Homo sapiens: one gene and its partner. The protein of the gene in region 1 interacts with the protein of each later gene in a pairwise test. Each region holds a gene or a part of one and is shown in the gene's direction. Other genes may lie near its edges.

The links. Proteins that work in one complex are often made in the same cells at the same time.
Region 2: the proteins of PTGIS (region 1) and PTGS2 come close enough for resonance energy transfer, tested with the Homo sapiens proteins (one study listed by BioGRID).

The regions. Positions count from the first base shown.
Region 1 is NC_000020.11:49,543,532-49,551,585, reverse strand, and holds part of PTGIS (prostacyclin synthase), read left to right. Parts: intron 1-1,396; coding exon 1,397-1,520; intron 1,521-3,566; coding exon 3,567-3,745; intron 3,746-7,137; coding exon 7,138-7,281; intron 7,282-8,054. UniProt on the Homo sapiens protein: Catalyzes the biosynthesis and metabolism of eicosanoids. Catalyzes the isomerization of prostaglandin H2 to prostacyclin (= prostaglandin I2), a potent mediator of vasodilation and inhibitor of platelet aggregation.
Region 2 is NC_000001.11:186,670,962-186,677,423, reverse strand, and holds the end of PTGS2 (prostaglandin G/H synthase 2 precursor), read left to right. Parts: intron 1-507; coding exon 508-591; intron 592-710; coding exon 711-957; intron 958-1,239; coding exon 1,240-1,526; intron 1,527-2,027; coding exon 2,028-2,175; intron 2,176-2,661; coding exon 2,662-3,071; 3' UTR 3,072-5,633; downstream 5,634-6,462. UniProt on the Homo sapiens protein: Dual cyclooxygenase and peroxidase in the biosynthesis pathway of prostanoids, a class of C20 oxylipins mainly derived from arachidonate ((5Z,8Z,11Z,14Z)-eicosatetraenoate, AA, C20:4(n-6)), with a particular role in the inflammatory response.

The DNA.
Region 1 (8,054 bases):
AGGGAGACAGGAGATATCAATCAAATACATTGACAATATACATTTGTCCAGTCCAGAAAGACAGGACAACTTGATGTGGGGGGTGCTTCCAGGTTATAGGTGGATTTTAAAACTTTCTGATTGGCAATTGGTTGCAAGAGTTATTGTCAATAGAAATAAATGTCTGGGTTATAATAAGAGGTTGTGAAGACCAAAGTTTTCTCATGCAGATGAAGCCTCCAGGTAGCAGGCTTCAGAGCGAATAGATGTAAAGGTTTCTTATCAGACTTAAGGTCTGTGTTGATATGAATGCTGGAGGGTATAATGAGTCATGTCTGACCCCCACTTCCCACCACGGCCTGAACCAGTCTTTCAGGTTAAATTTTATTTTATTTTTTTTGAGACGGAGTCTTGCTTTGTCGCCCTGGCTGGAGTGCAATGGAGCAATCTCAGCTCACTGCAACCTCCTCCTCCTGGGTTCAAGCGATTCTCCTGCCTCAGCCTCCCGAGTAACTGGGACTACAGGCATGCACCACGACCATGCCTGGCTAATTTTTGTATTTTCAGTAGAGATGACGTTTCATCATGATGGCCGGGCCGGTCTTCAACTCCTGGCCTCAAGTGATCCACCTGCCTTGGCCTCCCAAAGTGCTGGGATTACAGGCATCAGCCACTGTGCCTGGCCTGCACTTTACCATCTACAAAGCAGGAAAAAAAACTTCAAACTTGCCTTCCTTGTTGGAAGTGAGTTGAAACTCCAGAAGGGAGTTACGTGCTCTCCATCGTCATGGAAGCAGGAAAACTTGCCTTCCTTGTTGGAAGCAAGTAATACTCCAGAAAAGGAGTTGTACAACAAAATAAAACTTAGCTCTCAAATTGTAGCTCTCTTAGATCTCAAATTTTCAGAGATTCGGGATTCTCTGCAGCAGGGAGCTCCCAGCCCTACTGGTTTGACCAATGAAGACAGATACCAAGCTGTTACCAAACACCAACAGGAGATTTGTCAAAGGCCAGGGCCACCTACATGGAGTCCCTTCATGGTCGCCAATTTGTAAACTAAAAAGTATCTAAGCTAGGTCTCAATCAATTTAGATGTTTATTTTACCAAGGTTAAGGACAATGCCAGGGAGAAGAAAAACCACAGAATCACAGAAACAGTCTGTGGTCTGTGCCTTTCTTCAAAGATGACTCTGAGGGTTTCAGTATTTAAAGGGGGAAAAGTGGGCTGGAGGGGAAAGAGGGAGGGTGTGGTCATCCACATGTTACAAGAGAAAAGGAGCAGGTGAGGCAATAGTCCCCGAGTGCTCCATTCAGATTACCTCCCCGACTGCTCCATTCAAAATCACACTCTGCAACCTACACTCTTTATGCCCTTCCTTGCCTTATCAAATGGTGACAAGTGCCATGGCTTCTGTAGGCGACCTGGTGAGCCTCCCCTGGACCTGGGCAGCATCCCCTGGTTGGGGTATGCCTTGGACTTTGGAAAAGATGCTGCCAGCTTCCTCACGAGGATGAAGGAGAAGCACGGTGACATCTTTACTGTAAGTGCCTCTTGTGCCTCGGGAGGGATGGGGATGAGCAGCTGGGCCTCATATCTGGTTTCTGTTGATTCCTTCAACATATGTCCCTATGCCAACCCCCCCACCCCACCATCCAACATCCATCTGAGTGGTCGAGCCAACTTTCTATCCAGCTGCCTGTCCAGCTGCACTCTCAATGCTGACCTAACATCATCCCTTCAGTCTCCCTCTTGCTCTTCCCAGCGTGGAGTTATGCAGTCACTCAATATCTATCCAATACTTGTATATCCATGCAGCTGACCTCCATCTATCCATTCCATTTCCATCCGTTCAACATCCATCTTCCCATCCCATTCTTCTGCCTGTCCACCTGGTGTCTACTAAGCGTCCTTCCATCCTTATATCTACTCAGCATTCATTCGTCAACCTCCGTCTATCCACTCACCCATCAGTTTTTCCATAGATTCACCCGACATCTGTCAATTCATTTATCCATCTTCTATCCCTTCATGTGTCTGCCCAGATCTACCCAGAGTTCTTCCACTCATGGATCCAATGTTCATCCAACTTTCATCTGTATACAGTTGGCCCCCTGTATCCATGGGTGGGTTCCATATCTCTGGATTCAACCGGCCACGAATTGAAAATATTTGGGGGAAAATGTGTTGGTACTAAACTTTTTTAGACTTTTTTGTTGTAATTCTTCCCTAAAAATATAGTTTAACAACTATTTATTTAGCATTTACATTGTGTTAGGTATTATAAGTAATCTAGAGATGACTTAAAGTATATGGGAGGATGCATGTAGGTTATTTGCAAATATTATGCCATTTTAAATCAAGGACTTGAGCATCCATAGATTTTGGTATCTGCAGGAGGTCCTGGAACCAATCCTCCATGGATACTGAGGGATAACTGGTCAGTTTCCACCAACTTTCATTTTTCTGTTTATCTACGCATCTTTCTGTTCATCTGCCACTATCCACCCAACACTCAGCTATATTCAGTATTCGATGTCTCCCCACTGGATATACATCTATTTATATCTCATCCATCCATCCTTACAACATCTATTCAAACGACCACCACCCACCCACCTTCCATGTATCCTTCCAACTTCCATCCAATCAACATTCATCCTTCACTTTACCCAGTATCTACCTAGCATTCTCTCATCCATGTACCCAACATTTATTGGTACATTTGGTTTCCAACCAACCTCTAGCTGCCCTTCCATCCATCTTTCCATCCAACATAGATTCATTGATCTATCCTTCCATTTATCCATCTATCTAACATTGTATCCACAAGTATTTACCCAGCAATTTCCTTCCTTCCTTCCTTCCTTCCTCCCTCCCTTCCTTCCTTCCTTCCATTCATTTACCCATTCACCAATCCATCCATCTGCCCATTTACTCTTCTACAATCCACCCACTGGAATTTACCCAACAGCATCCATCCATCCATCCATCTATTCATCCATGTATCCATTCATTCTTCCTTCCATCCATCCATCCATTCTTTCATCCATCCATCCATCCACCCATCCATTCATCCATCTACTTATCCATCCATCCTTCCTTCCATCCATCCATCCATCCATTCTTCCATCCAACCATCCATCCATCTATCCATTCATCCATCCATTCATCCATCCATCCATGATGTGCACAGGATCCATCTGCCGCCTTCTCTCCTGGCTACTGGAGATATGGCAATAACCAAGATAATCATGGCAGGTGCTTAAGAGTGAGGTGGTAGAGAACACAGTCTTTGATTTTAAAAAGCCTCAATATTCCCAAATTCCAGTCCTAGTCCTGCCACTTCTCAGCTATGAGATCTTGGGCACATTTCTTCTCCTTTCTAAGCCTCACTTTTTCAGCTATAAATGGGTGAGTGATGGTCCCTACCTCACAGGGTGGTAGGTGGTAGTGAGGCATAGATAAGAGAACATAGTGTGTTACTGTCCAGTGGGGCAGTGCCTGGCACACAGTAAGGCCCTGACCACTGAGAGCGGCTGCTGTTCACAGTGACACTCCTCACTCTATCCCTGGCAACTTCCCACAGATACTGGTTGGGGGCAGGTATGTCACCGTTCTCCTGGACCCACACTCCTACGACGCGGTGGTGTGGGAGCCTCGCACCAGGCTCGACTTCCATGCCTATGCCATCTTCCTCATGGAGAGGATTTTTGATGTGCAGCTTCCACATTACAGCCCCAGTGATGAAAAGGCCAGGATGAAACTGTGAGTGGCTGGAGATGGCACCTGTGGGAGGGCCAGGGTGGGCGACTCATTTCTACTCATGTGGCCCAAGTTATTCTTGGTTCCAAAGCAAATGTTCGGTAAAGACATTTTGTCTTGAGAACACAAACAGAAACAAAACAAAAAACAACCCAAAAGAATTGGGTGGAAGAAGAACTCTTTGTCTCTCATCTCTGGCGGGTTTTTTTGTTTGTTTGTTTGTTTGTTTGTTTGTTTGGAGGCAGCCCTGATTTTAGTAGGAGGAGACCAGGGTTTGGGTCAGCCACACCTAAATTCAAATCCCAGCCCCATCACTCCCTAGCTTTGTGACTTTGGACAAACCTCTTTCCCTCTCTGAGCCTCTGTTTCCTCCTCTGTAAAATGAAGGAGAGAGGTGGAATGATGAATATTTCTGAGTCCATACTCTGCCAGGCAGCATGCATTATCTCATTAGTCTTCACAACAATGCTGGAGGCTAAGTAACTTACAGCCCCATTTCATAGATGCAGCCACTGGATCTCAGAGAAGTGACTTGTCTCAGGCCACATAGCCAGAAGTGGTACAGCTCCTGAAACATATGGAGGAATCATTTTATTTTATTTATTTATTTTTGAGACAGAGTCTCTCTCTGTTGCCCAGGCCAGAGTGCAGTGGCATAATCTTGGCTCACTGTAACCTCCGCCTCCCGGGTTCAGGCGATTCTCCTGCCTCAGCCTCCCAGGTAGCTGGGATTACAGGCACGTGCCACCACACCTGGCTAATTTTTGTATTTTTAGTAGAGACAGGATTTCATCATGTTGTCCAGGCAGGTCTCGAACTCCTGACCTCAGGTGGTCTGCCCGCCTCAGCTTCCCAAAGTGCTGGGATTACAGGCATGAGCCACCATGCCCAGCCACATATGGAGTCATCATATCAATAAGAGAACAGATGAACATGTTTGCTCTGCATTCATTCAGCAGACATCTGAGGACCCATTGTACCCTGGTCATTGCCCTGGATGTAGGGTGTGCAGAACGGTGCCAACCACCATTTGAAGGCAGCTATTATAGGCCAGGTGTCTGATAGGCTCACTTTCATATCTGTGCATTAGCCTAAAGAGGTGGGCATTTTTATCCTTATTTTACAGATGAGGACACTGAGGCTCAGAGAGGTGAAGTGACTTGCTCAAAGTCTACTGCTAGTAAGTGGCAGGACTGGGATTTGAACCCAGGTCCACTGACTTCACAGCGCATTCTCCTTCATCTAAGATACCAAGGCTGATAAGACCCTGTGTCCGCCCCTGCAGAGTTCACACAGTCCAATGGCGATCTTCAGTGATCTGTCTCCAGGAGGAATACCCTCTGGAGGTTAGGAAGAGCATCTAGGAAACTGTTTTGCAAGATAGTTAAGGCTGAAGCAAGGCCAGCATGATGAAGTGGATGTTGATGAGACATGATGCCTCCTCTGAACCTTGGCCTGGGGGCAGCTGCTTGGAGCCTGAGTGTCCTGGGTCCTGACATTCCAGGGGGACCCTGGGGGTCCCATTAGCAATAGGAATCCACAGCTCACTGAATCTGCCCCTGCTACCCAGGGAGGATCCCAGTTTCCTTCAGTGTTTGCCTCAGGAATTTTCTGGAATTTCTTACAAGCTGGCGTGATGTCTTCTGGGCACAGCAGCCACATCTGTTGAGGGCTTGTCTCTGCTGAGGACCAGCGCTTGGAGTGGGGTGGGGAGAAGAGCTGGGTCAGGGTCCATTGAAGGCCAGATCCCATGTATTGAGCACTTACAATGTGCCAGGCACCGTGCGGAACCCTTCACATGCATTGTCATACATGAGTCATGAGCCATGTCTGTCGTTTTTCCCACTATGTTCCAACTTGAACATCCCAAACCTTTTCATACCCAGGAGTTCATGGACGCCCTGTGCAAACCCTGCCCTGGTGGATTACCCAGGCACTTCTGGCTTACTCAGTCTAAAGGTGTCCATCCTACTTCCCAAACAGCAGTCCATCCTACTTCCCAAACAGCAGGCATGACAGATCAGGGCCCTGATTGGCACTCTCCCACTGTTCTTGTTGCTGCCACTAGGTGTTGCTGTTGACCATGGGCTGTGCACCGCCCATGGACACCCCACTTCACTTGCTGTAGGGATATCCTTTTTGGTCCAGATCCTACACAAGGAGCAGAGAGGCCTTAGACTTAGATGCAAGATACCCCTTTCTTGGCTTCTAATCATATCCTCAGTCATGGCTCAGTGTAGACTCCATATCATGGAGGCTCAGTATAGGGGAGCTTCCAGCTTCTGCCACACTCTTCCAGACGGGGCCTCTCCTCACTCTGTGCAGGTCCACACGATGGGACCAGATCTCCAGCCCACATCCCTTTTTCCTTGTGTCACTCTCATGTGAGGTCATGTCTTTTTTTTTTTTCTTTTCTTTTTTTAAGACACAGAGTCTCACTCTGTTGCCTAGGCTGGAGTGCAGTGGTGTGATCATAGCTCACTGCAGCTTCAAACTCCTGGACTCAAGCAATCCTCCCCACCTCAGCCTCCTGAGTAGCTGGGACTACAGGCACCTACTACACATCTGGCTAGTGATTCTTTGTGTATTTATTCTATTTTTGTAAAGGCAGAATCTCACTATGTTGCCCAGGCTGGTCTTGAACTCTTAGACTCAGGCGATCCTCCCACCTCAGCTTCTCGAGTAGCTGAGACTACAGGTGTGAGCCACCACCCCTGGCTAATATTTTATTTTTTGTTGAGATGGAGTCTCACTATGTTGCCCAGGCTGGTCTTGAACTCATGGACTTAAGTGATTCTCCCACCTTGGCCTCCCAGAGTGCTGGGATTACAGGTGGGAGCCACCATGCCTGGCCAGGGTCACATCTTATTGGCAGTCCTGAGTCAGGGAACACCACAGCTATTCCAACAGATCTTCCTATCTTTAGATTTCAGGGAGAGATGAGTTGCTTTTCAGTTCCTTCTCTTCCAGAACGCTATGGGTCCCTTATCCAAGCTGTGTGCCTTAGGGAGGGAAAGACTCTCCTGGTTAAGAATTCAGATGCTGGAGTTGGGCAGACCAGGATTTCAGTCCCGCTTTGGCTGTGTGACCTTGGGCAAGTCACTTTCCTCTCTGTTTCTGAGTTTCTCCATCTGTAAAATGGGTGTCATAATAGTAACTCTTATTCCCAGGTTTGTCTGAAGACGAAATGAGATTAGGCTCAGTATAACAGATGGGAACTATTGTTGACGATGACAGTCATAATAATATCCTCTTATTTAAGCTACTCTTCCGCAGGACCTCTTTGCCAATGGGGAGCTTGAGCTCTGGGACCCTTAGGTTTGGGGAGGGAGGTGCCTGTAGGTGTGTATTTCCCTTTGGAAGCCAAATTTTCATGCTTTTGTTTCCTGCCTCAGGACTCTTCTCCACAGAGAGCTCCAGGCACTCACAGAAGCCATGTATACCAACCTCCATGCAGTGCTGTTGGGCGATGCTACAGAAGCAGGCAGTGGCTGGCACGAGATGGGTCTCCTCGACTTCTCCTACAGCTTCCTGCTCAGGTGAGGCTGTGCAGCCCCCACCCTCCTGCTGGGGCCCGGCACTTTGACCTGTGTCAGCCATGAGCAGTGGCCAAGGGAACCGTGAGGACTCTGTGGGTGGGGGAAGCAATTTGAGACACCCAAAGCAAAGACTGTAGGAAAGACGCCATGCACCAGGGCCCCGGCTGTTCATCTGACCTAGCTCATGAACTGTAAAAGGAGACACTGGCTGGAAATGGGACCTTACAGGTCATTCAGAGAGGAAGTCACAGAGCAAGACTTCAGAGGTCATCTTGTCCTGTGGCTTCCAGACTTTGGGATTTCACAGAACAGAAAACAAAATGTTTGGGAGATCAACTTGGGACCTTAACCTTTTATCTGGTCTTGTAAATGTATGTTAAAAACTGCACAACCGAACGTTCCTTCCTTCAGCAGTGCCGGGCACTAATCCAGGCTCTGGGGATACAGCAGGGAACAGGACAGATGAAGTCCCCAAATTCACACAGCTGACACTCCAGTGGGGGAGGCCGAATTGAGTTATGTCAGAGAGTGATAAACACGATGACAGAGATCCACGGGTGGGGTGACAGCATCTGGGGGGCTTTCTTAGGCCGACTGACGAGGCAGGGTCATGCTCTGGGGGTCTGGCTTCTGAGCCAAGACCTAACTGCAAAGTGCCCACCACGCCAACACTCTAGGCAGGGGAAACAGCAGGTGCAAAGGCCCAGAGGTGGGAGGAAGCTCAGAGAGACGGCCAGTGTGGCTACAGCATAAAGAGCCAAGGAGGGAAGGTG
Region 2 (6,462 bases), on another chromosome or scaffold:
ACATACATATGTACAGGTATTGTTATTTGTAATTTGACCCTTGTATTTTTTAGTTTAAAATGTTAGTACTGCAAAATGTTATGTCCTCAAAAACACATTGTACCATGATTATGCCGCTTTCAATATTGTAAAGTGAGGTTTTTGCCGCATTATTATTTTTTGGATTTCAATAGCATAGCTTCAAGTTATTCGTAAGAATTTTTTATAAATAATACATTTTTATACTTTTTTATAATTACCATATCATCATAGTGAAGTATATAATATATATGATATAAGCTCAATATAGTATATTAATTCCGTTAAACACAAAGACATATCAGTTTGTAGCTTTGGTGGATAAACAAATTAATTTAGCAATTCATGGCTATGAAAAATGTATATTTTATTTAAAAATTTTAAAGAAAGCTAAATGATCAAATTATTTAATGATGAATTATATGATAGACACTTTATATAAGAAAAACTTCAACAGCAACAAATTAAAATTTTTTCATCATTTTCTAGGTGGACTTAAATCATATTTACGGTGAAACTCTGGCTAGACAGCGTAAACTGCGCCTTTTCAAGGATGGAAAAATGAAATATCAGGTATGCTTCCTTTGACTATTAAGACTTAGTTATTACCGCTTATACCCATATTTTAAAATCCCTAAAAATGTGTTCCTTAACTTTTTAACTGATGTTTATTTATTTATTTATTTTTTTAGATAATTGATGGAGAGATGTATCCTCCCACAGTCAAAGATACTCAGGCAGAGATGATCTACCCTCCTCAAGTCCCTGAGCATCTACGGTTTGCTGTGGGGCAGGAGGTCTTTGGTCTGGTGCCTGGTCTGATGATGTATGCCACAATCTGGCTGCGGGAACACAACAGAGTATGCGATGTGCTTAAACAGGAGCATCCTGAATGGGGTGATGAGCAGTTGTTCCAGACAAGCAGGCTAATACTGATAGGTAAACAAGAAAATGATTTATATAAAACCCTCTTCCCCAGGGAAAATTAGTGTGCTATCTTTGTTATGTTTTGAGTAAATGACAAGATGTGGTAAATGAAAACTCACACATTCTATATACATTAAATATGTAAGCATGACTGATAAAATAGCTATCTTTTGATACTGACAAGGAAGAAAACAGAAATGAAGGAATAGCAAATTTTAAAAATTGCATTCCAGTTGCTTGAAAGCTTGTGATCAGATGCAATAAATGTTTTTATTATTTATTTTGTGCAAATAGGAGAGACTATTAAGATTGTGATTGAAGATTATGTGCAACACTTGAGTGGCTATCACTTCAAACTGAAATTTGACCCAGAACTACTTTTCAACAAACAATTCCAGTACCAAAATCGTATTGCTGCTGAATTTAACACCCTCTATCACTGGCATCCCCTTCTGCCTGACACCTTTCAAATTCATGACCAGAAATACAACTATCAACAGTTTATCTACAACAACTCTATATTGCTGGAACATGGAATTACCCAGTTTGTTGAATCATTCACCAGGCAAATTGCTGGCAGGGTAAGCATTATTATTGAAAACCAAAACAAAAGACTAGTCAGTAACTTTAGAATTTCTGCCACGGAAATTATTTTTCTTAAACTTACTAAAAGAGTAGTTAGTTATATTGCTAGTAAAATTATTTTATTGATATAAGAAGCCTAACTTTGTTTGAAAAGTCTAAACTTTTAGTCTAGTCTACAGTTGTCAGACAAATAGCAAATTGTACCCCTACCTTAAAAATATTTTCAAAAAGTATCTATAATCTTATAGGAATAAATATTTTAGGCTTGAATACTAGTGTTATTTTTGAAATGTAAAAAGGCAAATTAGTTCTAGGCTGGTGTCCCATTGAATTTTAAGCAGAGCTCCTGTTGAAATGTAGGTAAGCATCTTTCCAGCAAATAAAAATTGTCTCCGCTGGGAGTTTCAGTTTTACCTGATTTGTACCTAAGGCAAGCTGAATACAAACAGTAAATATGCCTAAAATTCTTGTTTTACAACTAATTTTACTTTCCACAGGTTGCTGGTGGTAGGAATGTTCCACCCGCAGTACAGAAAGTATCACAGGCTTCCATTGACCAGAGCAGGCAGATGAAATACCAGTCTTTTAATGAGTACCGCAAACGCTTTATGCTGAAGCCCTATGAATCATTTGAAGAACTTACAGGTAAGAAACAGTTTCTAAACTTCTTCGTTTTTTGTTTGTTTGTTTGTTTTTGTTGTTTTTGGTTTTCTTTTCGAGATGGAGCCGCCCTCTGTCACCCAGGCTGGAGTGCAGTGGCGCCATCTCGGCTCACTGCAACCTCCGCCTCCTGGGTTCAAGCAATTCTCCTGCCTCAACTTCCTGAGTAGCTGGGACTACAGGCTCACGTCGCACGCATGGATAATTTTTTGTATTTTCAGTATAGACGGGGTTTCACCGTGTTAGCCAGGCTGGTCTCAAACTCCTGACCTAGTGATCCGCCGGCTTCGGCCTCCCGAAGTGCTGGGATTACAGGCGTGAGCCACCGCGCCTGGCCCCTAAACTTCTTAAAAGAATCAGGGGTCAAATGGAAACAGAGAAGTTGGCAGCAAATTGAGCAAAAGAATCAAACTGTTTTTTATTTTGTGAAGTTTGACATTGGTTGTATCTCTGTCTTCATCGCCTTCACAGGAGAAAAGGAAATGTCTGCAGAGTTGGAAGCACTCTATGGTGACATCGATGCTGTGGAGCTGTATCCTGCCCTTCTGGTAGAAAAGCCTCGGCCAGATGCCATCTTTGGTGAAACCATGGTAGAAGTTGGAGCACCATTCTCCTTGAAAGGACTTATGGGTAATGTTATATGTTCTCCTGCCTACTGGAAGCCAAGCACTTTTGGTGGAGAAGTGGGTTTTCAAATCATCAACACTGCCTCAATTCAGTCTCTCATCTGCAATAACGTGAAGGGCTGTCCCTTTACTTCATTCAGTGTTCCAGATCCAGAGCTCATTAAAACAGTCACCATCAATGCAAGTTCTTCCCGCTCCGGACTAGATGATATCAATCCCACAGTACTACTAAAAGAACGTTCGACTGAACTGTAGAAGTCTAATGATCATATTTATTTATTTATATGAACCATGTCTATTAATTTAATTATTTAATAATATTTATATTAAACTCCTTATGTTACTTAACATCTTCTGTAACAGAAGTCAGTACTCCTGTTGCGGAGAAAGGAGTCATACTTGTGAAGACTTTTATGTCACTACTCTAAAGATTTTGCTGTTGCTGTTAAGTTTGGAAAACAGTTTTTATTCTGTTTTATAAACCAGAGAGAAATGAGTTTTGACGTCTTTTTACTTGAATTTCAACTTATATTATAAGAACGAAAGTAAAGATGTTTGAATACTTAAACACTGTCACAAGATGGCAAAATGCTGAAAGTTTTTACACTGTCGATGTTTCCAATGCATCTTCCATGATGCATTAGAAGTAACTAATGTTTGAAATTTTAAAGTACTTTTGGTTATTTTTCTGTCATCAAACAAAAACAGGTATCAGTGCATTATTAAATGAATATTTAAATTAGACATTACCAGTAATTTCATGTCTACTTTTTAAAATCAGCAATGAAACAATAATTTGAAATTTCTAAATTCATAGGGTAGAATCACCTGTAAAAGCTTGTTTGATTTCTTAAAGTTATTAAACTTGTACATATACCAAAAAGAAGCTGTCTTGGATTTAAATCTGTAAAATCAGTAGAAATTTTACTACAATTGCTTGTTAAAATATTTTATAAGTGATGTTCCTTTTTCACCAAGAGTATAAACCTTTTTAGTGTGACTGTTAAAACTTCCTTTTAAATCAAAATGCCAAATTTATTAAGGTGGTGGAGCCACTGCAGTGTTATCTTAAAATAAGAATATTTTGTTGAGATATTCCAGAATTTGTTTATATGGCTGGTAACATGTAAAATCTATATCAGCAAAAGGGTCTACCTTTAAAATAAGCAATAACAAAGAAGAAAACCAAATTATTGTTCAAATTTAGGTTTAAACTTTTGAAGCAAACTTTTTTTTATCCTTGTGCACTGCAGGCCTGGTACTCAGATTTTGCTATGAGGTTAATGAAGTACCAAGCTGTGCTTGAATAATGATATGTTTTCTCAGATTTTCTGTTGTACAGTTTAATTTAGCAGTCCATATCACATTGCAAAAGTAGCAATGACCTCATAAAATACCTCTTCAAAATGCTTAAATTCATTTCACACATTAATTTTATCTCAGTCTTGAAGCCAATTCAGTAGGTGCATTGGAATCAAGCCTGGCTACCTGCATGCTGTTCCTTTTCTTTTCTTCTTTTAGCCATTTTGCTAAGAGACACAGTCTTCTCATCACTTCGTTTCTCCTATTTTGTTTTACTAGTTTTAAGATCAGAGTTCACTTTCTTTGGACTCTGCCTATATTTTCTTACCTGAACTTTTGCAAGTTTTCAGGTAAACCTCAGCTCAGGACTGCTATTTAGCTCCTCTTAAGAAGATTAAAAGAGAAAAAAAAAGGCCCTTTTAAAAATAGTATACACTTATTTTAAGTGAAAAGCAGAGAATTTTATTTATAGCTAATTTTAGCTATCTGTAACCAAGATGGATGCAAAGAGGCTAGTGCCTCAGAGAGAACTGTACGGGGTTTGTGACTGGAAAAAGTTACGTTCCCATTCTAATTAATGCCCTTTCTTATTTAAAAACAAAACCAAATGATATCTAAGTAGTTCTCAGCAATAATAATAATGACGATAATACTTCTTTTCCACATCTCATTGTCACTGACATTTAATGGTACTGTATATTACTTAATTTATTGAAGATTATTATTTATGTCTTATTAGGACACTATGGTTATAAACTGTGTTTAAGCCTACAATCATTGATTTTTTTTTGTTATGTCACAATCAGTATATTTTCTTTGGGGTTACCTCTCTGAATATTATGTAAACAATCCAAAGAAATGATTGTATTAAGATTTGTGAATAAATTTTTAGAAATCTGATTGGCATATTGAGATATTTAAGGTTGAATGTTTGTCCTTAGGATAGGCCTATGTGCTAGCCCACAAAGAATATTGTCTCATTAGCCTGAATGTGCCATAAGACTGACCTTTTAAAATGTTTTGAGGGATCTGTGGATGCTTCGTTAATTTGTTCAGCCACAATTTATTGAGAAAATATTCTGTGTCAAGCACTGTGGGTTTTAATATTTTTAAATCAAACGCTGATTACAGATAATAGTATTTATATAAATAATTGAAAAAAATTTTCTTTTGGGAAGAGGGAGAAAATGAAATAAATATCATTAAAGATAACTCAGGAGAATCTTCTTTACAATTTTACGTTTAGAATGTTTAAGGTTAAGAAAGAAATAGTCAATATGCTTGTATAAAACACTGTTCACTGTTTTTTTTAAAAAAAAAACTTGATTTGTTATTAACATTGATCTGCTGACAAAACCTGGGAATTTGGGTTGTGTATGCGAATGTTTCAGTGCCTCAGACAAATGTGTATTTAACTTATGTAAAAGATAAGTCTGGAAATAAATGTCTGTTTATTTTTGTACTATTTAAAAATTGACAGATCTTTTCTGAAGATAAACTTTGATTGTTTCTATACATCTTTGTCATATGACATAAGATTTCTCTGAAGCATTACTCTTAAACCATTATCTTGCATTCTCCTACCTATTCAAAACTAGGACTGGCCCTTCATGAAATGGTTTTGCCCTCAATTATATAGAGGCTTCCTAGAGTCACTATTTAAATCTCATAATCCTTATTCACTGCGACACTGTGTTGGAAAATGTCTAGTTTGTGTATCTTTACAGAAGATGGCAAACAAGCTTATTTTCATTGCCTAGTCTAGAAGAAGAAGAAAAAAATACACAATAAGGCAAAGAATAAGACATATATTATGAAGGGGGCACAAAGTTAAGAAGTTCAAAGAGGAGGAAATTATACAAAGTTGGGCAAATCATTGATGCAAAAGCTCATAGGCTTTTGTTGTACCTCTATCCTTGACATCTTGGTAATTTCAATATCTACATGGACCACATATTTAGCATCTTCCCTGGCCTCTCCTCTTTGGCCTTCTCCATTCCAGGGATGGCCTCTTCCACCATATTTCCTGAAATCATACATATCTTGATATCATTATGATTAATTACAGCACCACTTTCAAAATCTTGATTCCAAGCATCTTCCAGCTCACCTATTTTATTGCTTACACTCTAACATCTAACTCTCAGTCTCACTGAACCTACCGATCCACCAACCTCATCACTTCACTATTTATCACCTGTTTTATCTTTCCATTTACTTCCATATGCATCTAGCTCAGATTCTATTGTCCATCATTCTAATCATTCCCCTCTGCTCTGTATATTCTCCCTCTACTGTGCTGAATTGACACAAGTTGATTAAATCCAGCCATTCTCCTAATCTG